3 separate regions of the Homo sapiens genome follow, and regions 2 and 3 are each linked to region 1. The links come from fine-mapping of genetic effects on gene expression. A gene starts in region 1. Each other region holds a variant in brackets. All regions are shown on one strand. Distances are between the middles of the regions.

Region 1 (7,523 bases):
CTGCTTCCCATGGAGACAGAGCAGGGCAGGCAGTGGGGTGGAGGCCAAGGGGCTCACAGCACCACCCCAGGAGGAGCAGTGGGCCAGACCCCTGGGCCTGGGACCTGCCTCGGACAGAGCACCTACGAGGCTCCCAGCTGCCTGTGCCCGCTTCCTACGGTCCCAGGCCCCCCTCATCGTTGCTCCCAGGACAAGCAGGTGAAGGAACAGGGCAGCGGGGTACGGTTAGGGTTAGGGCTGGGGTTAGGATTAGGGTTAGGATTTGGTTTGGGATTAGGGTTAGGGTCAGGTTGGGATTAGGCTTAGGTTTGGGGTTGGGATTATGGTTAGGATTTGGGCTAGTGCTTGGGGTGTTTTTGGCAGTGTTTAGTGTTAGGGTTAGGGCTGGGTTGGGGTTTGGTTTAATGTTCCTTTTGGGATTTGGTTTTGGGTTGGCGTCTGGGTTAACTTTAGCGTGTGGTGTGGGTTGAGGTTATTGCTTTCTGGCAGGACAGTGTTGGGGTTAGAGTCGGGTTTAGGGTTCATGTTACTGTTCAGGCTAGCATTGGGGTAGGGTTAAAGTTTGCTTTGGTTTTGGGTCCCATTAGAGTTAGGTTTAGCATTTGATATAGGTTGGAATTTGGGTTAATATTGCAGTTGGGGTCATTGTTAGATACACACTTGGGCCAATTCAGGGCCTTCTCACCACCTGTGGAGGGCAGCTGTAGCCCGATTCTGCAGGGGACTCCAGAGTTTCAGTTGGAGCACCTGTTGTTTGTGGGAGAGTGGGAAGATACCTCTCACCTTCCCATTCTCTAGGGCTCATAGTCAGAACCCTTGCTCAATCTGTTCTTGTGGGTGGGGATTGGAAGATGAGGCAGGGAACTGGTCAGCATGGCTAGCTGATGCTGGAGCCCCTGTATGTGGCTGTCTGCGGGTGCCTCACTGTCAATGACTTCCCTGACGTGCTGTCCTTTCTTTTATACTCAGCCACCAGGGCCAGAAGCCTGGCATCACACCAGGCTATTCCTATCTCCCCCACCTCCATCCATCCATGCATTCTTTGGCACATTTAACCATGAGCCCCAGTGTGGTGCCACTTCCTGCCCTGCTCCCTGACCACAGTAGAGGACCACGCATCCCAGCGGGGAGATTGATGTCCACATCAACAGACAGATCAGATAGCTCTGGAACGCAGTAAGAGACACGCAAAAAACAAAATAGGGCAACGAGATTGAGCCATGGGGATGGTGATGTCAAACAGAGTGGTCCGTAGAGGTCTGAATGAGGGCAGGGGCCTGAGGAGAGGGTCCTCCATGGCCCCAGGGCATCACCTCGAAGTCCTGCCACTTTCATCCCTTCTTCCCAACCCGGCTGAAACCTTGCCTCCTCCAGGAAGCCTGCCTGATGCCCCAGGCTCTGCTGCACTGACTGTAGTTTCCCCATCTGCAAAAAGGGGCTAGTACCACTTCCCCTACAGGGGCATTGCAGGGATGCTCCCAGACCCACAACCAATGCCTGCTTTCTCTCCGCCTTCCTAGCTTAAGGGGGCTGGAGTGGGAAGGATAGAAGAGAGGGCAGGGAGGGTGGGGACGGGAGGTGCGTGCAGCATGGGGGAGGGGCTCTCCTGGGGCCTTCCCAGGCAGGCCTGAGCTGAAGCCTGCAAGCTGCTGGAGCTGAAGCAGGAGCCGCCCCCACCCCACCCGCCCCTCCCCCGCCTCCCCAGCCATCTGTGGCGTTGGCAGCAGCAGTGCCAGGGCGGGCGGTGAACATTCTGGCACCATCTGAGCAGGACCAGCCTCTGGGGAAGGGCCGCAGCCCAGGAGGAGGCAATGTGGGCAGAGCCCTGCCTGTACCCCAGGTTCCACATCCCCCATTGGTGTTTGTCCCCTTAGGGACTGGGGAGGGAAGGGACACTGGAGCTGGCAGGCTGGGCCTCACTACCTCTCACAGGATGCCTCCACTGCTGTGTGCTGCCTGAATGGTGTCTGAACCTGAGAGGCCAGAGTGGAGGTCAGGGAGCCTGTCCCTACTCCTGCTGGGGAGACTAAGGCCCCCTTGAGCAAAGAGGCTGGTCCCGTGGTGCACACCAGCGACGGTTTGGGCGAAGTCTGTCCACGCTTCGCCCAAACTGGGAGAGCCCCGCCCTGAGCTGCCGCCTCTCATTTTGTCTTGACTGTGGTGGGGTGCACTTGGAGGCGCCTCCCTCTGTCCATTGGTTACCCAATCATGTCCCTGGGACCTGAGAGGGAGCAGAGACAGGACTTTGCTTGACACGAAGTGGCTCCAGTCAGCTGCTGGTTCTTTTGCTTGTCTCCTTTTTTTCTGGGTTTCCCCTCTTGCCTTGCTATCAGTGCCTTTTCTCAGCACTGACACTGCCTGAATGTAGCAACCTACTCCCCAGATTAAATGAGAGAGCGTAGAAACTGCAAAGCATACAACATACAGCATATAAGGATGGTGGTGATGGCAGCTCAACAGTGGGAACTCAGTGTCCCCAAACTGTACACTTTAAAAGTGGTTAAAATGGTAAATTTTATGTTTTCCATGTTTTCCACAATTAAAAAACAAAAATATACAAGGTACTCATTCGCAGCATCTTCTAATCTGCCATGTACTTGGAAATGATATAAGCATGTGTGAACCATGAGCCCATAGGTCCCGAGGGAGGATATGAGCGAAGCACACGGGCTTTGCCAGCTCTGTTTCCACCACGCAGGACCCTCCCTGGCTGCCAGTGCTCCTCCCCGGGTTCCCACGCTGGCTGCTGCTGGGCTGGCTGGGATGGAAGACCCTCATGTAGCTGGCACCCTCAGGGCTGCCCCTTGCCCGCTCTGGGAGGAGAGAGGAGGGTTCACGCTGCACCTTTACCAGGGTAGGACTGGCCAGCCTGGGCTCTACCGGGCAGGTCGGTGGGATGCTTCAGACTGGAGGGATAGGCAGGGGGCAACACTGGTCCTCCTGAAGCCACCTTCCCTTCCTGAGAGCTCCTTGGGGAGAAGGCAAGCCCTGGAAGCCACCGACTGGGGGCTCGGGCAGAGCAAGGGCAGGGTAAGGGGCAGCTTGGCCAGGAGGCACCCTTGGGAGCCAGGGTTTCCTCATCTGTAAAATGTGACTCTGCGAGGGCAGGAGCTTGGTTTCACTCGCTACTGTACCCCCTGGGGCCTACAGCAGGGCTGGTTGGTACACACTAGGTGTCTAATAAATGTTGAGGGATTGAATGGATGGACCGATGAAAAGGTTGGGCAGGTCATTACTGACAGCCTCTGGGTTTCAAGGGCCCATTCACTCTGTCACTCACCTTCGCGCCCGTGCATTAGTTCTCTCATTTATTCATTCCCCCCGCCCCCCCAGCCCCGCATGCTCTACCGCACTCATTCATTCACGCGCTCAGCCATTCAAGCTGGCGCGGGTTCATTCATTCCCTGCCCCTCTGCCATTCCTCGCCTGGCCCCCGCGCACGCCGCACCCCCGCGCCCCTGCCCGGCCCTGCGCCCACCACTTGCGCCCCGGCCGGGCGCTGCCGGGAGGACGCGCGGGCTCAGCCGCGGCTGCGCGGGGCCGGGGCTGGCGGGGAGCCGGGCTGGGGGCGGGGGGCGGGCGCTCCCTGCGGGAAGCCGGGCGGGGTGGGGGAGCCCCGGCCGCGCCGGCTCCCGGCGCGCTCGGCCTCGGAGGGGAGGGGGCGGCGGTAGCGGCGGCGGCGGTGAGCGGCGCGGCTGCCCTGGGGCCATGTGGACTGGCGGTCGCCGGCCGGGCCGGCTGCGCCGGGCGGTGAGTACCTGCGAGCCGGGAGGGCAGGGCGCGGGCGCGGGCGCGGAGGCGGGGCGGGCGCCACCCACGCCTGGGGCGGTCCCTGCTCAGCGCGGGAGGTGGCCGGCCCCCCGCCCCGCTCCCCTCCGCGCTGCGCCCCCGCCGTGGAGGCTTCACTGGCCCGGGAGGAGCCGGGCCGGGTCTCCTGGGAACTGGGCACTCTCGGGTGGGGCGGGGATGCCCAGCCTCCGCGCGCCGCCGGGAGCGCCCGGGTCCTATCGCGGGGTCCTTGCGCCCTGACACGCGCGCCCCTGCGGCGGAAGGAAAGGAGGGACGGGTGACCAAGGGCGCGGCCGGAGGACTGGGGACCCGCCGCTGTCCCGGGCGGGTGGCGAGGGTGCGGGCAGGCCTGGACCCGCCTGCGTCTGGGGGCAGGGCCAGCCCCTGCTTGGGAGGCCGGAGAAAGGCCCGGGAGCCGGAAGGAGGCTGGACCCGGGGCCGCCTCATTGAGCGTTTGCAGCGCGTGGGCGCGCACGAACCTCGGACACCACCATCCCATTCAGTACCTCGCGGCAGGTACTATCCTCCTGCCCCTTTACAGGCGAGGAAACTGAGGCTCAGGGAGGCCAGGGCCTCGCCCAGAGCGGCTCAGCCGGCGCGCTCACCCTCCCTGAGCCCCAGCACGTTGGATGGGAATTTCTGCCCCAGCGTTTCCGCTTCCTGCTTGGTTTAGAGGTGTTTCCTTCCTCGTCTGTGCCCCACCCCATCCCCAATGTGGTTTCCTCAGGGCAGGAACAGCGTGGGCGACGCGCTGGAGTCTCCTGAGCCGGCAGAATGGGAGCAGAGTGGGCACCCGGGAGCGGGGCCGGATGGATAGGGAGCACTGCACGTGCAAAGTCCGCATGGCCAAGGTCGGCCGCCAGTGCAGACTGGGGGTCCAGGCCCTGGGGGTATGGGTGGGGCGGGGTCTCCACAGCCAGGCTCCGTCGGAGGCCCCAGTGCTCTGGCTCTCTGGAGGCCATGGACAGGTTCTTTTCCTTCTCTGGACCCTAGTTCCTCTGCCTGCCAAGAGCAGCAGAGACCCCCACTACTCCCAGGGCCAGGCTCCCACGAGGACTGTGGGCAGAAGCCCCTAACAAACTGCGGTGTGCAGCCCTGCCAGGCTGGCCTTGGTCTTGCCAGCAGGGGCAACTGGCCGTTGGGGGTGGCTCTGCCTGGCATCTGTGACACGCAGGGCGGGGAGACGGCAGAGAGGGCCCCAGCAGCATCCTGCAAACCCTTAATTTTCCCGACTCTCACTATAATCAGGGCAGCTTGGAAAAGCAAGCACTGTGGCAGATGCGGCTCTGCCCGGGCTCAGCACACGGGCTCTGGGCGATGGGCGGCTGCGCTGCCGCCAAGGGCCCTCCCCAGCTTTTGTCTCATATTTATAGATTCCAAGGCTCCGCGTTCCGTTTGTCGTCAAAACCTGGAGCTGTTCGCACCTGGGAGCTGAGTGGGGAGGGGAGGGCTGCCTAGAACCTCAGCCTGGAGGATGAGTTTTCCATGCGCTGGGGTGGAGTAGGGGGACACCTGTCAGAGCCCAGGCCTGGAGAGAGGAAATGAGCCCTAAGCAATCTGGAAGATCTTCCATCCACTCTCCCAAGACTTGGGCGCAGGGTCTGGCCCACATAGCTGCCATTTATGGAACGCCTGCTATGTACTGGGCCCTGGATCAGCATTTCCACGCATCATCTCCACGGCAACACTTTGAAGGAGCTTCCCTACTCCTGCAGGCACTCCTGATGCTGAAGAGTGGATGGATGGATGAATGGATGGATGGATGGATGGATGGATGGATGGATGGATGGATGGGAGGGAGGGAGGGATGGATGGGAGGGATGGATGGATGGGAGGGAGGGAGGGAGGGATGGATGGATGGGAGGGAGGGAGGGAGGGATGGATGGGAGGGAGGGAAGGAGGGATGGATGGGAGGGATGGGAGGGATGGATGGATGGGATGGATGGATGGATGGATGGGAGGGAGGGAGGGAGGGAGGGATGGATGGATGGATGGATGGATGGATGGATGGATGGGAGGGATTGACTGAAGCCCATGAGTCCATGGCTATTGGACACAGTCCACAAATCATTACCCAGGGTCCCAGGAGGTGGGGTCCAAGGGCTGAGTAGTTGCTGAACAGATGAAGGGGTCAAGGTGTGTTACAGGAGCCTGGCCCAAGGCCTGAAGGTGATGGGGAGAGTGTAGAGTGTTCAAGTCTCAAGACTTAGAGAGGCTGTGTCCTGCTGGAGTGTGGAAGCCATGGCGGTGGGGAGGTGTGGCTCCTCCCCCTAAGGGAGGTAAGGATCCCTGGGACAGATGGGTGGGTGACCCTAGGACTCGCCGTGTTGGTCTAGAATCACCCCGCATGGTTCTCTTCTGACTCCCCTTCCTGCCGCAGAGCTGGTCGCTAGCCTTAGTGGAGAGGCCTGGACGGAGGTCTGCAGCCCTGGGTTCTGGTTCCTCCTCTGCCGCTGACTCACTGTCTCCTCTCTAGGGCTCCGTATCAGAAGCTTAACACCCATTACAGTCAGGGGAGTGACTTCTGTGGCCTGAGAGCAGGCATCAGATTGTAGCCTGTGGTGGGAGAAGCTGGCCAGAGGTGTCTCTATTGCTTTAATCATTATAGGAATGAATGAATGAATGAATGATGAATGACTAAGTGTGTGAATTCTACACTCACCTAACATGCTGTACCTAAGCACCCACTCTGCACTGCTCATTGGGGTCACTTAGGTGAGTCTGACACAGACCTTGCCCTCCACGAGTCCACAGTTTGCTGGGAGACATGGACCTTGGCCAGTACGGCAGGAGTCAGGAGCTGCTGGGGCTCTTCTCTCCCCTCTAGCCAGGAAGGGAACTCAAAAGTGGCCCTTGCCTCAGCAGGCCTTGAGTCTGGAGGACAGTACAGCAGCCTCTGTGGTCTGCCTGGGGTGGGGATCAGCCAGGGCCCAGCTCTGAGCCAAGCAGGGGAATTGCAGTCATTGGTTCAATCAGCAAGCCCTGAGCCCAAGTCAGGGATGGAGATGGGTCAGGCCTGGGCTTTGCCTGGGGAAGCCAGACATGGAAGCCTGGTCATCCCACAGTGGGTGCATGCTGGGATTAAGAGGTGCATGAGGTGGAGAAGCAACGCAGGCATGCTGAAGGGGATGCATGGGTGGATGATACTGTATGGAAGGGAAGCACTAGCAGGATAGAGCAGCGGATGGATGGGTAGAAACCTAGAGGGATAGGCTGGGCGCAGCGGCTCACGCCTGTAATCCCAGCACTTTGGGAGGCCAAGGTGAGTGGACCACCTGAGGTCAGGAGTTCAAGACCAGCCTGACCAATATGGTGAAACCCCGTCTCTATAAAAATACAAAAAAAATTAGGTGGGTGTGGTGGTGTGCACCTGTAGTTCCAGCCATTTGGGAGGCTGAGACAGGAGAATTGCTTGAACCCAGGAGGCAGAGGTGAGGTTGCAGTGAGCCGAGATCGTGCCACTACACTCCAGCCCCTGGGCAACAGAGTGAGACTCCATCAAAAAAAAAAAAAAAAAGGAAGAAAAACGAAAGAGAGAGAGAGAAAGAAAGAAAAAAAGAAAAGAAAGAAAGAAAGAGAGAAAGAGGGATAGATGGACGGGAGGAGAGGTTGATGGATGTAAGTAGCAAGATAGGGATGGGTGGGTGGACAGATGGAAAAGTTGATATGGATACAGGACTGGATTGATAGAACAAAATATCAATGGATGATACATGGGTGGAGGGAGGGAGACT
Region 2 (7,523 bases), 50 kb after region 1:
GGTGGGGGGACAGAAAGGTGCCTGTGTCAGAGACAGCCTTGCCTGGACAGCAGGATGCCTGGTGCTGGCTGGGTTGGGACTGTGGCCAGCCCTTGCCAGGAGCAGCCATGGGGCAGCTCAGGTGGGTCACTGGGCCTCCGGGCCACCCCAGGGCTAGCTGTCAGAGCCCTCGCAGTGGGGACCCCGGAGGGGCGGGAATGCAAGCCCCAAACACAGGCACATGCAACAGAGATTTTCAGTGGCGAAGCCACACCCCTTGAGTCCTACTGTTTGCATCTGTTTTCAGCTCAGGAGGCTGAGCCAGCGCCCGCCTGGGCCTGAGGTCACACACCTGCCCAGTCCCTGCCCAGCCCTGCAGCCACACTGTTTCCAAACCACACTCTGGGAAGAGGGTTGTGAGCAGCAAGTCTGAAGTGCGGGGTGGAAGGTGCTGGGGGTTCATCCTGCCTCCCATTCCTGCCTGGCACTCCCACCCCGTCATCTTTGGAAGGACGCCGAGAGCCTGAGGGACAGGGACAGGGAGACCAGGCCTGCTCTACGAGCCTGGGGGAGCTCAGGGCCATTGGGGCTCCTTCTTCTACCACTGCCCCCCACCTTGTGGGAGGTTCCCATCTTGGCAGTGCTCAAGGGCACCAGCTAGGGCAGCGGCAGGGCCCTCCATGCTCCGGCAGCCCCAGGTCAGAAAGAGGCTCTCATTTTGCAGGCAAGAGTGTGGAGGCCAGAGAGGGCCGGAGCCAGCAGTGGGTCCTTGTCCTGCTGAGCGCACAGCAGGCCCTGTGCACACCACTGCCCCCGCTGGCCACTTGGCGCTGGTCAGGGCGGCGGGGCCTTGGCTGGGGTGAATGGCGCCAAACGCCTTCTCTTGTCTTTTAGGAGCTCTATAGGAAGGACTGCAATCTAGCGGCCCAGCTGCTGCAGTGCAGCCAGACCTACGGCAGGGTCCACAAGGTGTCTGAGGTAACGTGGCCCCGCAGCCAGGCCCACCCCGCCCCGGGACCACCGGGCTCCTTTTGTGCCAGTGCTACCCCAAAGCCATTTCCCATCTTTGAGGAGGAAGATGCCAGCTGAGCCTGAGCCTCCTCTGTCCCCCTCGCTCCTGTGGGGTCATGACATTGGAGGGGCCGCCAAAGGCACCCCACCTCACGCAGCCGGGCAGCCCCTGGCCCTCACCAGAGTCCCTTTGGCCCACCCCGGCTGCTGGTTGCCCTCGGTTTCCTTTGGGGGGCTGCTCCAGGTCCTTGCTTCCACTGAGCGCTGACACGGCAGAGTGACCTTTGTGGAGCTTCGCAGGAGCCTGTGGCTGGGCACGATGACCGGCAGTGCCTATTTCAGAAAGAAAACATTCAGGAAAGAGGGCGTGGCTGAGGCCACGTGGCAGGCAGGTAGCAGAGCCAGGACCCAGAACCAGGCCTGTCTGATGCCAAGGGCAGATGGGCCAGAGGCCCACCCCTGCCCGCCTATGGTCGCCGCACCCTGCGCACCCCGTCCCCCGACCCTCCCCTCACATGCAATCTCCCAGCCAGGCCTGTGCGTTCCTTTCCCCTGGTCCTGGGCCATGCCTGAGACACTCACAAAATAGATCAAACAGTAGCGGGACACCCCCACATGGCACCAGGCGCTCTCAGCCCTGGCCCTCAATCTTTGTTGCATCTGAGTCTGTCTTCTTCAGGAGCGCTCCAGCAGCATGACTGGGGGGCTGGGGAGTGGGTCATGCCCCCAGTAGAACCCACAGAACCCACGGGCCTGGGAGAGCAAGTCAACCCCTCGCTGGGCACAAAATGGGTGGGGTGGGGGTGGCGGGGGGTGGAGCCTTGAGTGGGGCCTGAATCAGACCTGGGTTCCGGCTTCTCCAGGCGACTGCAGCTTCTGGGCTCTCCTGGGCCCAATCAGAGTGGGGTGGGGAGAGGTGACCCAGGATCCCCAGGCAGTCACAGCACCCACACCCCTGGGAGCTTGTTCAGTACAGCGTCCTGGATCCAGGCTCCCCCTGGTGTGATTTGAGAAGCCGGGAGGCCCCCGTTCGTCTGTCTGCCTGTCGGTCATGGCTAACATCAGTCCTCAGCTTCAGGGCCAGGGCTGGGCTGCCATGCTAACAGTGACCCTGTACCCGCCGTCCCCCTCCTCGCACCCGTTCCAGCTGCCCTCGGATTTCCAGGAGCGCGTGAGCCTGCACATGGAGAAGCACGGCTGCAGCCTGCCATCCCCGCTCTGCCACCCGGCCTACGCCGACAGCGTCCCCACCTGCGTCATTGCCAAGGTGCTGGAGAAGCCGGACCCCGCCAGCCTGTCCTCCCGCCTGTCCGATGCCTCCGCCCGCGACCTGGCCTTCTGCGACGGGGTGGAGAAACCAGGCCCGCGGCCCCCCTACAAGGGAGACATCTACTGCAGTGACACAGCCCTCTACTGCCCGGAGGAGCGGCGGCGAGACCGGCGGCCTAGCGTGGACGCGCCCGTGACCGACGTGGGCTTCCTGCGGGCCCAGAACTCCACTGACAGCGCGGCCGAGGAGGAGGAGGAGGCCGAGGCGGCGGCCTTCCCGGCGGGCTTCCAGCATGAGGCCTTCCCCAGCTACGC[A/G]GGCTCACTGCCCACGTCCAGCTCCTACTCCAGCTTCAGCGCCACGTCGGAGGAGAAGGAGCACGCGCAGGCCAGCACGCTGACCGCGTCGCAGCAGGCCATCTACCTGAACAGCCGCGACGAGCTCTTCGACCGCAAGCCACCCGCCACCACCTACGAGGGCAGCCCTCGCTTTGCCAAGGCCACGGCCGCGGTGGCGGCCCCGCTGGAGGCCGAAGTGGCCCCAGGCTTCGGGCGGACCATGTCACCGTACCCGGCCGAGACCTTCCGCTTCCCGGCCTCTCCGGGTCCCCAGCAGGCCCTGATGCCCCCAAACCTGTGGAGCCTGCGGGCCAAGCCGGGGACCGCCCGGCTCCCCGGGGAGGACATGAGGGGCCAGTGGCGTCCCCTGAGCGTGGAGGACATCGGCGCCTACTCCTACCCCGTGAGCGCTGCCGGCCGCGCCTCACCCTGCAGCTTCTCTGAACGCTACTACGGCGGGGCCGGGGGCAGCCCGGGCAAGAAGGCCGACGGCCGCGCCAGCCCGCTCTACGCCAGCTACAAGGCCGACAGCTTCTCCGAGGGGGACGACCTCTCCCAGGGCCACCTGGCAGAGCCCTGCTTCCTGCGGGCGGGCGGCGACCTGAGCCTCAGTCCCGGCCGCTCGGCTGACCCACTGCCCGGCTATGCACCCAGCGAGGGGGGGGACGGGGACAGGCTCGGGGTGCAGCTGTGTGGGACCGCCAGCAGCCCTGAGCCCGAGCAGGGTTCCAGGGACTCCTTGGAGCCGAGCTCCATGGAGGCCTCCCCGGAAATGCATCCTGCCGCCCGCCTCAGCCCCCAGCAGGCCTTTCCGCGGACTGGTGGCTCGGGGCTGAGCCGCAAGGACAGCCTCACCAAGGCCCAGCTCTACGGAACCTTGCTCAACTGAGCGCCTGCGTGCAGGCCTGGCCGTGGTTCGCTCCCCGCCAGCCCACGTGCCCCAGAAGGGCCGGCCTCACCTCTCCCCAGCCCCCGCTGTTCCCCTGCCCCGGCCAACAACGAGGAGTCTGTTCCTCCCCGCACCTCCTCTCCTCCCCAGCCCTGTAGGCCTGAGGGGAGGGTCCCCCACACCACGGTGTCCACCCGGCCCCGGCCCGTGGAACTCCACTTAGAGCGTTTTTCACGCGTCCTTCCCCCATGTGAGAGGAGCATCCCCCCTTTTATAAAGCGAAACTATTTTTATAGAGAAAAAGGGTCTTTCTTAACGCACTTGGCCTCCAGCTCCCTGGACGGCTGCCTTGGCGTTTTCAACACAAAGCTCCTTTATTTTTTGGGCGAGGGTGCGTGGGGCCTGCCCCTTGGAAGGGAAGGGAAGGACGGTGTCCTGTGGAGACCAGACTCTGCAAGTGGGGAGACCACCCCCGCAAGCCAGTGACAAGGGAGCCCTGAAGTTGTGTCCACGAAGAGGGAGCTGAAACAAATTCGGGGCTATGAAGTGTTTTAAAAATCCATTCTTCGCAGTGTGGCCACCACACCGCCCTGAGCCCTCCCACGGCCCATCGTCCCGGGTGGGCCGGGATGATGCCCCAGTGCGGCCGGTGCTCATCTCCGCCCCCGGGTCCGCCCCCTGACACCGTCTTACTCTACCTCAGACATGAGGAGGCCCTCCATTCCTGGTTTCTGTAGCTTGCATTCTTGTTGTCTCTGATGCATGCCCTGCCAGTTAGTACTGTATTTTGCATTCATTAATAAAAGACACCGGTGGAAAGAATCTGGGTTGGGCTGTTTCTCCTCCTCCTGCCTTTTGGTCTCGGGAACCTGGGGTCCCTGGTGTCCCTCCCCAGCCTTGCTCTCTGCAGCCGAGTTGGGCCCCTTAACCCCACTTCACACCCCATCCCCATAACACCCCGTCCCCACCCCGCCATCCAAGTTCCTATCTAGGGTGTGGATTCTCCTGCTTCTCCCAACCCACTGGAGACAACAGCTCTTTCATCCCATTCTCCTGCGCGCTGCCCCACCGATTTCCTGGCCCCTAATCCTCGTGTCTCAGACTTGGCTTCTGCTCCTTGAGATGTACTGGGGCCACGGATGGAATGTCGGCAGGTGGCCTTTTCCCGGGCACACGGGATGCTGCCGCTCTGCTCTGTCTTCCTGTTGGTATTGGGAACTGGCTGTCAGTCCCGGAGCCGCTCCATTGGTTAGAAAAAAAAAATTGCTTTCTTTTCCCCGGCTCTTTAAGATTTTCTCTTTGACTTTGGCTTTCTGCAGTTTCCCTGAGGTGTGTCTGGGTGTGGAGTTCCTTCTTAGGAATCCTTCTGAGGATCCTCAGGGAGTCACATCTGTGGATTGGTGGACTTCATCAGTTCTGAAAAATTCTCAACTATTATTTTTTTAAAAACATTTCTCTGCCCATTCTCTCTGTTTTCTCCCTCCGGGTTTGTTTCCCAGACCTGTGCTACCTCAGGCCTGCAGTGGCCCTGTCACCCCCCACCATGCCCTGTGCCACTCCAGGCCTGCAACGGTCCCTGTCACCCCTCCCCACACCCTGTGCCATCCCAGGCCTGCAGCGGGCCCTGCCGCCCCTCCCCACACCCTCCGTGGTTGCTGCGCTCTCCCTGCTACACTGCACATCATCTGTCTTCCAACTCACTAATTCCCTCCTATGTCTATTCAGCCGCCACACACAGCCGCTGAGGTTTTCATTTCAGTTATTCATGTTTTTCATTTCTGGAGGTTCTACTTGGTTGTTTTACAAATCCACAGTGCCACTTTCTTAGCTTCCCATTCCCTGGAGATATTTTCCAGCTCATCTCTTATTTCTATCAAAACAGTGGGCACAACCATTTCACAAGCTGGTCTGGGACCGGACCATGTGGTCTGTGCAGGCCTCCTCGTGGTTCCCGCTCCGGCGGCCCTGTTTCTCTGGACGCCTGCTCATCTTGGACACATGCTCATCCCTGCCCTTGAAGAGGTGCATGTGTGGGTTCAAGGCTGAGGATGGAGGCCCCTCCCTAAGAGGGCCTTTATAGCTGTCCCTGTAGGTGCCTGGGGCATGTCCCAGTGGGGAGCACCTCACCCAGGTTCGTGTCTGGAGGTTCCCTGGCACGCCTGGCTTTGTGTGTAGCTCTAGCGTGGCTCTGCCTATGGTCAGACCACTCCAAGGAGAGTGGGCATCAGCCGTGGCTCCCTGCATCCCTGCCCTCCCCCTTCCTCTGCAGAAGAAGCCAGAGCCAGCCAGGCTGTGTCTTCTCCAGCCATAGCTGCCGTCCCAGGAAGCAGCCTCCCTGAGCCGGGGGAAGCTTGGAGAGGTTTGGGATTCTGTTCTCCTCTCTGGGGCCTGTGGGCAGAACAGGGGCTACAGCCCTCACTGAGCTGGGGGCAGCCAAGAGGGTGGGAGAGAGAAATAACTGGCACCCGGTGGGCAGAGGCATTCCCAGAGGGGAACCCAAGCTTCAGCTACCCCAGTGTCAACTGTGAGATTTCTGTCACCCAGACGTGGGAAAGCTGAGGCCAAAAAGAGGGGCGCCCTGGCTCTGCCACTTCTAGGTGACAAAGGCCCCACCCAGGTCTCACTCCTGGGGGCTACTGAATCAGACATACCTGCCCTGGGCGGCAGCCTTGGCCCAGATCTGGGGGGGCCAGACCCAGGGTGTTGGCCCCAAATTGCCACCTCAGAGCCTGCGGCCCCCAAGATGGCCTCCACACCTCACAGGGCTCTCCTGCCTGGGCTGCAATGCCTGCCACAGCCGGGCCTCCAAGGTGTCTTGTTCCCGGAGCAGCCAGGACCATTAGGTCCCTGCCTAGGACTGGGTAGGGACGGTGACTTTGGCTGCAGAGCCAGGCAGCCTTCAGGCGCAGGAGAGAAGAGGAAGGAGAGGGTCCACATGGCTTGCAGCGGCAGGGTCAGGCTGACACCCCCGGGGTGGGGGCCTGCCTGCTGTGCACGGCAGTCAGGACACTGCTCCTTGTGGTGCTGAGGCTGGGGAACCTTGGTTCACTATCCCCAATTCTCATGGCTCAAAGCTGGCTCAGCAGGGCCCTGAGACTTAGGAGCACCTGTGGCTCTGACCAGTGACTCTTCTCTCGCGGGATCCCTTGGGCTGGGTCTCGGTGCCCCCCTCCTTTCCCTGGTGCTGTTGTCAGCTGGCAGCCTCATGCTGGCCTCGGGGACCTGGCCCTGCCCACAAGGAACTCAGAGGTGGGGGAGGAAGGCAGACAGTGTAACACTCAGCTCAGGGCTTCCAGAACACAGGGCCTGTGGGCCTCTCAGAGGGGAGGGCCCTCACTGCTCCAGGAGGACGAATGAAAGGGGTCAGAGGAGAGGATCACAATGGGTGTTGAAGGATGAATAGGAGTTCAACAGGTATTTTAGGCAAATGGAACACAGCCATGAAAAGGCACAGATCTGTGACAGCTGGAGAGTTCTAGAAACTGTTCAGTGCTCCTGTGGGGCTCCCAAGGGGCTGAGCTCTGGAGCTGGCAGTTTCCCTCTGGATCTGCCCTTCGACCTTCTGCACTTGGACTGTCCCCACAGCTGAACGGGAAGTCCTGGACAGTCCCCATCTACCCAGGCAGCCGGCCTTGGCACAGGGTTCCCTGCTCCACCCCTGCCCTCTCCCTGCACTGAGATCCTGCCTTGCCGTCAGGGAGGCCCTGTCTGCACATCCGCCACCCGCCCACACATCCATGTATGTTTCTCCTCAGCTCTCGGCAGGGCAGCGCAGGGTTGGGCTCTGCCACCAGTTGACAGTGTCACCTTGGGCAAGACCCAGGCCCCCTGGCCAGCTTCCCTTGCTGGAGCCTGAGGACATTCATCAATGCAATTTCCAGGGACCCTCTAGGCAGCTGGGTCTCCCACTGTACAGACAGCCAAAGTGAGGTGGAGGTGGCGCCTACGGGAGGCCATTTGGGAAGGGATCCCAGGTGCAAAAAGAGCTCAGGCTTGGGGTCAGAGGGCCTTGGGCATGGCTCCCTGCCCTCAGGGCAGC
Region 3 (7,523 bases), 74 kb after region 1:
GAATTGAAAGGAGAAACCATACAAGTCCACGATTTTACCTGGAGATATTAACACTCCTTTCTTTATAATAAGTAACACAAATATTAATCAGTGCATTCATGTGAGGAAACTACACAAACCGGGAAAGGAACCACCAAAAGAGAATAAGCAAAACAATTGCCAAGTTTCACACAGAGCTAGGAATCATTCATTTTCCCACCAGTCAGAGGGGGAAAACCTTGAAATACACATGGCATTGGATAGAGTACTCACAAGAGTATAACCTCAGAAATGAGGCAAAATTGGCCCTAGTCTAAAGGCTGTTTTTGTTCCACCAAACAAAGCCTAACAGCAAGCCTCTGAAAAATCAAACCGTTATCAAGCAATACAACCGCATCCAAAAAATCTCTCAAAATATGTAAAGCACAACAAAATACTGAATACCCAAAAAGTAAAATTCACAATGTCTGGCATCCAATCAAAAGTTACCAGACCTGGAAAGAGGTAAGAAAATGCTTCCCATAATGAAAAAAAAAAAATCTGTCAATAGAAACAGACCCATGAGTGACACAAATGATAGAATAAATAGAAAAGAGGTTGGGCGTGGTGGCTCACATCTGTAATACCGGAACTTTGGGAGGCTGAGGCAGGTGGATCACCTGAGGTCAGAAGCTCAAGAACAGCCTGGCAAACATGATGAAGCCCCATTTCTACTAAAAATACAAAAAAAAAAAAAAAAAAAAGCAAGGTGTGGTGGCATGCGCCTGTAATTCCAGCTACTAAGGATGCTGAGGCAAAATTGCTTGAACCCAGGAGGCAGAGGTTGCAGTGAGCCAAGATTAGGCCACTGCACTCCAGCCTGGGTGACAGAGTGAGACTCAGTCTCAAAAATAATACTAATAATAAATAGAAAAGAACAATAAATCAGTTATGACTATATACTGTATGCTCAAGAAGGTAGCGGACAGTATGAGAATGTTAAGGATAATACACATGAAAGATATCTTTTAAAGACCCAAATCAAACATGTAGAAGTGATATAAAACAATGCCCCGCTATTAATAGATTAAAAATTGCATAAGATATGATTACTAAATTTGAAGATATGGAAGAACAGAGGATCAGTGAGCTATGGAATAAATCCAAAAACCCTGAATATGAATGTAAGTGAGACAGGGAGATGAGGGGTGGGGTTTCGGGGACAAACAAAATTGAAAAAACTACGAGCAAAAATTTTCCAAATTTGATTAAACTGTAAACCCACAGATAAAAGACTATAATACATTGATTAAAACTATAAACTCACAGATAAAAGAAACTAAACAAAGCCTAAGAAACATAGAGAAAAATTACACCAAGGCCCATTGTTTAAATTGCTTGAAGCCAATGGTAAAGAGAAAAATCTTAAAAAGCAGACAGAGAAAAGATGCATTATATACAGAAAAGCAAAGATGAGAAATACAGCAGACTTCTCATTGGAAACAGAGCAAACTAGTGACAATTGAGTGACATGTTTAAAGTACTGGAAGAGAAAAAAATCATCAACCCCAAATTCTTTACCTAGCATAAATATCTTTTAGACAAAAGACAAACTAAAGATTTTTTTGGGCAAATAAAAGCTGAAATAATTTATCACTAGCAGACCAAAAATACAGGAAATGTTAAAGGAAGTCCTTAAGGCACAAAGAAAATGATACCAGATCTAAATTTACACCCAAAAATGAAAAGCAATAGAAATAATACATATGTAGGAAAATAGATAATATCTTTTTATTATTAAAATATTTTTAAAATTATTGGCTACTTCCAGCAAAAATAATAACAATGTTGGAGATTGTAACATAAGTAAGAGTGAAAAATGTATGACAGTAATAGCACAAAGACCCTGAGGGGAGAAACTGAAAATCTGAATACTGCTCTAAGGTTCTTACAGAAAAAGAGATATAATGTGACTTAAATGCAGACAATCATTTTAAAAAAACAAACCCCACAGCACAATGCCACAGATGATAAAGCAACAAAAAAGATTAAGATGAAATCATAAAAATACTAAATTAATCCAAGTGAAAAAAATGGATGGGGGAGAAGAGATGGAACAAATAAAAAAAAATAGCAAGGTAGCAGATTTAAACCCAACCATATCAATAATCATAATAAATTAAAACAGGACAAATAACCTAGTTCGAAAGAAGAGATTGTTAGACAGGTTTAAAATAAAGAAGCAAGATCCAGCTATATGCTGCCTAAAATAAACAAACTTTAAATATAAAGATACAAATAGGTTAAAAGTAAAAAAGGGCCGGGCGCGGTGGCTCACGCTTGTAATCCCAGCACTTTGGGAGGCCGAGGCGGGCGGATCACGAGGTCAGGAGATCGAGACCATCCTGGCTAACACGGTGAAACCCCATCTCTACTAAAAATACAAAAAAATTAGCCGGGCGTGGTGGCGGGCGCCTGTAGTCCCAGCTACTTGGGAGGCTGAGGCAGGAGAATGGCGTGAACCCGGGAGGCGGAGCTTGCAGTGAGCCGAGATTGCGCCACTGCACTCCTGCCTGGGCCACAGAGCGAGACTCTGTCTCAAAAAAAAAAAAAAAGTAAAAAAGATATGCCATGCTAACAATAATTAAAATAAGCCAGGAATGTCTATATTAATACCAAAGTAGATTTCAGAGTAAAGAATAAAGGGATAAAGAGGGTCTTTTCATGGCTGGGCACAGTGGCTCATGCCTGTAATCCTAGCACTTTAGGAGGCCGAGGCAGGAGGATCACTTGAGCTCAGGAATTTGAGACCAGCCTGGGCAACCCAGTGAGACTCTGTTTCAAAAAAAAGAAAAAAAAAAAAGAGGGTCCTTTCACAATGATAAAAGAATCAATTCATTAGGAGAACATGATAATCCTAACTGTGTATGCACCTGGTAACAACTTCAAAATAAATGCAGGAAAACTAACAGAACTGAAAAAGGAAGTAGACAAATCCACTCTTAGAGACACAAATTGCAAGCCTTGTCTTAGTGCATTCCTGCTGCTAGGACAAAATACCTTAGACTGGGCAATTTATAAATAATAGATATTTACTTCTCCCATTTCTGGATGGTGGGAAGTCCAAGATTGAGGTGCCAGCAGATTCAGTGTCTGGTGAGGGCTTGCACCTTCTTGCTTGTCCTCACATGGCAGAAGAGATGGAAGAGTAAAAAAGGGCCCACCTTGTTCCCTCCAGCCCTTTTATAAAGGCATTAACTACACTAACAAAGGTGGAGCCCTCATGACGTAATCTACCCCTTATGTGCCCCCACCCCCTAATACCATCCCTTTGGGGTTTAAGTTCCAACATATAAATTTTGGAGGGATACATACGTTCAAAGTATAGCACAGCTCTTATAGAATAGACAGAAAAAACAGAAAGGATATAGAAAATTTAAATAACACTATCAACCAACTTGACGTAATTGACATTTATAGAACACTGCACCCAACAACCACAGAACACACGTTCTTTTCAGTGCACACAGAACATTTACCAAGATAGACCATATTTTAAAACATCAAAAAAATCTAAATAAATTTAAAAGAATTCAAATATACAATGTATGTACTGTGACCACAATGGAATTGAATTAGAAAAAATAACAAAGAGGCATCTGAAAAGTTCCCAAGTGTTTGGAACCTAACGAGCACACTTCTAAATAAATCATGGATCAGGAAGAAACCAAAAGGAAATCAGAAAGTATTTTGAACTGAATGAAAATGAAAATGCAATATATCAACAGCTTGGGTAGTGCAGCTGAAATACCTAGAGAAAAATCAATAGTATTGAACATCTATAATCGGAAAAGAATAAAAGTCTCAAAACTATGACCTCAGCTTACACTTTAAGAAACTAGAAAAAGAAAATTAAATTCAAGGTTTTTGTGAAAGAAAGGAAATAAGATAGGAAAAGAAATCAATGAGTTCTGTAAAAAGAAAAGAAAGAGTAAAAGACAATAAAATGAAAATCTGATACTTGATCAATAAA[A/G]TTTATAAGCCTCTAGCTAGACTGATCAGAGTAAAAAACAGAGAAGACAAAAATCACCAATATCAGCACTGAGAGAAATGAGGTGGTATCACCACAGATTATACAGATTTTTAAAAATAACATTACAAAAAACTTTATGCCAAAAAATTGGACAACTTTGATGAAATGGACAAATTTCTTGAAAGGCACAAGCTATCAAAAGTCACTCAAAGATTAATAGAAAATCAGAATAGCCCTATATTTACTAAGTAGATTTTATTTAAAATTTCAAATCTTCCCACAAAGAAAATTTCAGGCCAAGACAGCTTCACTAGTCAATTCTAGCAAACATTTAAGGAATAATGTCAATTTTTACACGAAGTCTTCCAGAAAATTGATGAGAAATGAACATTTCCCAATTTGTTCTATGAAGCCAGAATTACCCTGATACCAAACCCATACAAAGATATTATAATAAAAAAAGTTCAGATCAATAACCCTCATAAACATAGATGCAAAAATTCCTAACACAACTTTAGCTGATATAATTCCAAATTATACAAAGGGAATAATATATTATGATCAAGTGAAGTTTATCCCAGGAATGCAAGGCTGTTCTAATATTTGAAAATCAACTGACAAAATCCACCATATTAACAGAATAAAAAAACCACACATGATCATTTCAATAAATGGGAAAAGGCATTTAACAAAATCTAACATTCATTCATGATTTTTAAAAAACTCTCAGCAAACTATGAATAAAAGGGAGTACATTCAAACTGATAGGGACATGTACAAAACAACTAGTTGACATCATATGTAACTGAAAGAGAATACTTTCCCTCTATGATCAGAAATAAGGCAAGGATGCACACTCTCACCACTTCTAGACAACACTGTTCTAGAGGTTTGAGCCAGTGCAATAAGGAAACAAGAAAGGAAGGAAGGAAGGGAAGGAGAAAAGGAGGAAGGGAGGGAGGGAGGAAGAGAGAAAATAGATGAGAGAGAGAGAGGATAGAGATAGACAGATAGTGTCCAGATTGGAAAAGAATAACTAAACCTGACTTTATTAACAGACAACATGATTATCTATATAGAAAATCCAATAGAATCTACAAAGAAACAACCAGAACTAATAAATGAGTTTAGAAGAGTTACAGAATTCAAGGTGAAAATTCACATAGCCACAATTTTTCTATATACTAACCATGAGCAACCAGAAGCTGAAATTTTAAAATATCACTTACAATAGCATCAAAATATAAATACTTGGGGATAAATTCTGACAAAAAAATGTGAAAGACCTACACTATGAAAACTACAAAACATTGGTGAGAAAAATTAAAGACTTCAGTAAATAGAGAAGTATACTATGCTTATGGGTTGAAAGAAACAAAATTGTTGGCAGTACAATTCTTTCCCAAATTGCTCTACAGATGAGATGCAATACCATTTAAAGTTCAAGCCAGTTTTTTTTTGCATAAATTGGCAAAGCAATTGTAAAACTGAAATGTAAATGCAAAGAACCTACAGTAGTCAGAACAAAGGTGGAAGACTTATACGAGCTGATTTCAAGATTCATTATAATATTACAATGATGAAAACAATGGTATAAAGATAGACAAATAAATCAATGGGGCCAGTGCAGTGGCTCACACCAGTAATCCCAACTCTTTGGGAGGCCAAAGAAAGAGGATCACTTGAAGCCAGGAGTTTGAGATCAGCCTGGGCAACATGGCGAGACCCTGTCTCTACAAAAAAAAAAAAAATTTACATTATTATTATTATTATTATTATTATTTTGAGATGGTGTCTCGCTCTGTCACCCAGGCTGGAGTGCAATGACGCGATCTCGGCTCACTGCAACCTCCGGCTCCCGGGTTCAAGTGATTCTCCTGCCTCAGCCTCCCGAGTAGCTGGGATTACAGGCACCCACCATCATGCCCAGCTAATTTTTGTATTTTTAGTAGAGACGGGGTTTCACCATGTTGGCCAGGCTGGTCTTGAACTCCTGACCTCAGGTGATCCGCCCACCTTGACCTCCCAAAGTGCTGGGATTACAGGCGTGAACCACTGTGCCCGGCCAAAAGAAATTTTTTTTAAATTAGCCGAGTGTGGTGGTGCACATCTATAGTGCCAGCTACTCAGGAGATTGAGGCAGAAGGATCGCTTGAGCCCAGAAGTTCCAGGCTGCAGGAGCCATGATCGTGCCACTGCCTGGATGACACAGTGAAACCCTTGTCTCTAAAAATTAATTTTTTTTTTTTTTGACATGGAGTCTCGTTCTGTCACCCAGGCTGGAGTGCAGTGGTGCAATCTCAGCTCACTGCAACCTCCGCCTCCCGGGTTCAAGCAATTCTCTTGCCTCAGCCTCCTGAGTAGCTAGGACTACAGACACACGCCACCACGCCCAGCTATTTTGTGTACTTCTAGTAGAGACAGGTTTTGCCATGTTGGCCAGGCTGGTCTCGACCTCCTGACCTCAAGTGATCCACCCACCTCAGCCTCCCAAAGTGCTGGGGTTACAGGTGTGAGCCACCATAACCAGCCTACAAAAAATTTTTTTAATTAAAAAAAAAAAGAAATCAATGGAACAGAAGAGAGAGTACAACAATAGACCTAAATCTATTTAGCCAATTGATTTCCACAGAGAGGTAAAGGCACAGATATTGTTTTCAACAAATGCTGCAGAAATTTGATTATCCACAGGCAAAAACATGAAACTACATCCATACCTGTACCATACACAAAAAATTAATACTAAATAGATCACAGACTTTAATATGAAGCCCAAAACTATACAACTTCTAGAAGTAAACACAGGGGCACAAAAACTTTTGAAGGTAATGGATGCATTATTTATCTTGATTGTGGTAACTATTTCATGGATGTATACATATATGAAAACTTAAACTGTACATTTTGAATATGTGCAGCTTATTGTATGTCAGTTATATTTCCATAAAAGTATAAAAAGGGCAGGACACGACAAAAATGAAGGAAAAATAAAGACATTTTTGATAAACAAAAACAGAGAATTCCCCACCACAAACCTGTATTATAAGAAATGCTAAAGGAAGTTCTGCAGCCTGGGGGGTAGTGATACCAGATTGGCACTCAGATCAACAAGAAGAAATGAAGACACCCCAGCCATTAAAAAATAAAGTTAAAAACAATTTTAGAGCAATAAATTTGACAATTTAGATAAAATGGAAAAATTCCTTAGAAGATAAAAGATAACAAAAACAACTAAAGGAGAAATAGGACACCTGAATGGCCCACGTTACACATAGTTAATTTTTTTTGTGATTCAATATCTACCTACAAAGAAAGTCTTGTGTCCAGATGTCTTCACTGCTGAATTCTATCAAACATTTAAGGAAGAAATAATACCAATCTTATACAAACATTCAAAAACATAAGTAGAGAACATTTCTCAGTTCACTTTTCTGAGGTCAATATTAATCTCACATCAAAATGAGACAAAGAATATAGGAAAAAATGTATCGATCAATAATCCTCATTAACATAGATTTTAAAAATCCTTAAC

Alleles and levels. Alleles are on the strand shown, and positions count from the first base shown. SD is a standard deviation of normalised expression in the study named.
With allele A in place of G in region 2, the expression in liver of the gene that starts at base 3,582 in region 1 is higher (moderate effect, 0.48 SD a copy in GTEx).
With allele A in place of G in region 3, the expression in tibial nerve of the gene that starts at base 3,582 in region 1 is lower (moderate effect, 0.48 SD a copy in GTEx).

Evidence for each region. PIP is the estimated chance that this variant, and not a neighbour inherited with it, causes the effect. A credible set is the group of variants that fine-mapping cannot tell apart.
Region 2: its variant is the best candidate, but not a certain one, in a credible set for the expression of BEGAIN in liver (GTEx, PIP 0.84).
Region 3: its variant is the best candidate, but not a certain one, in a credible set for the expression of BEGAIN in tibial nerve (GTEx, PIP 0.59).

What each region holds. Positions count from the first base shown.
Region 1 is chr14:100,583,476-100,590,998 of GRCh38, reverse strand. BEGAIN (brain enriched guanylate kinase associated) reads left to right here and starts at 3,582. Exons shown (of 7, transcript NM_001385089.1): 1 at 3,582-3,750. The coding sequence starts at 3,709.
Region 2 is chr14:100,533,930-100,541,452 of GRCh38, reverse strand. BEGAIN (brain enriched guanylate kinase associated) reads left to right here. Exons shown (of 7, transcript NM_001385089.1): 6 at 874-957; 7 at 2,138-4,306. The coding sequence ends at 3,484. LOC124903382 (a long non-coding RNA gene) reads right to left here and starts at 3,481. Exons shown (of 2, transcript XR_007064334.1): 1 at 2,242-3,481; 2 at 1-1,323. The variant A/G (reference allele first, on the strand shown) is at 2,575.
Region 3 is chr14:100,508,989-100,516,511 of GRCh38, reverse strand. All of the region lies in intron 4 of WDR25 (WD repeat domain 25), which reads right to left. Among named protein-coding and RNA genes, the nearest start is that of BEGAIN, 75 kb to the left of the region's middle. The variant A/G (reference allele first, on the strand shown) is at 3,992.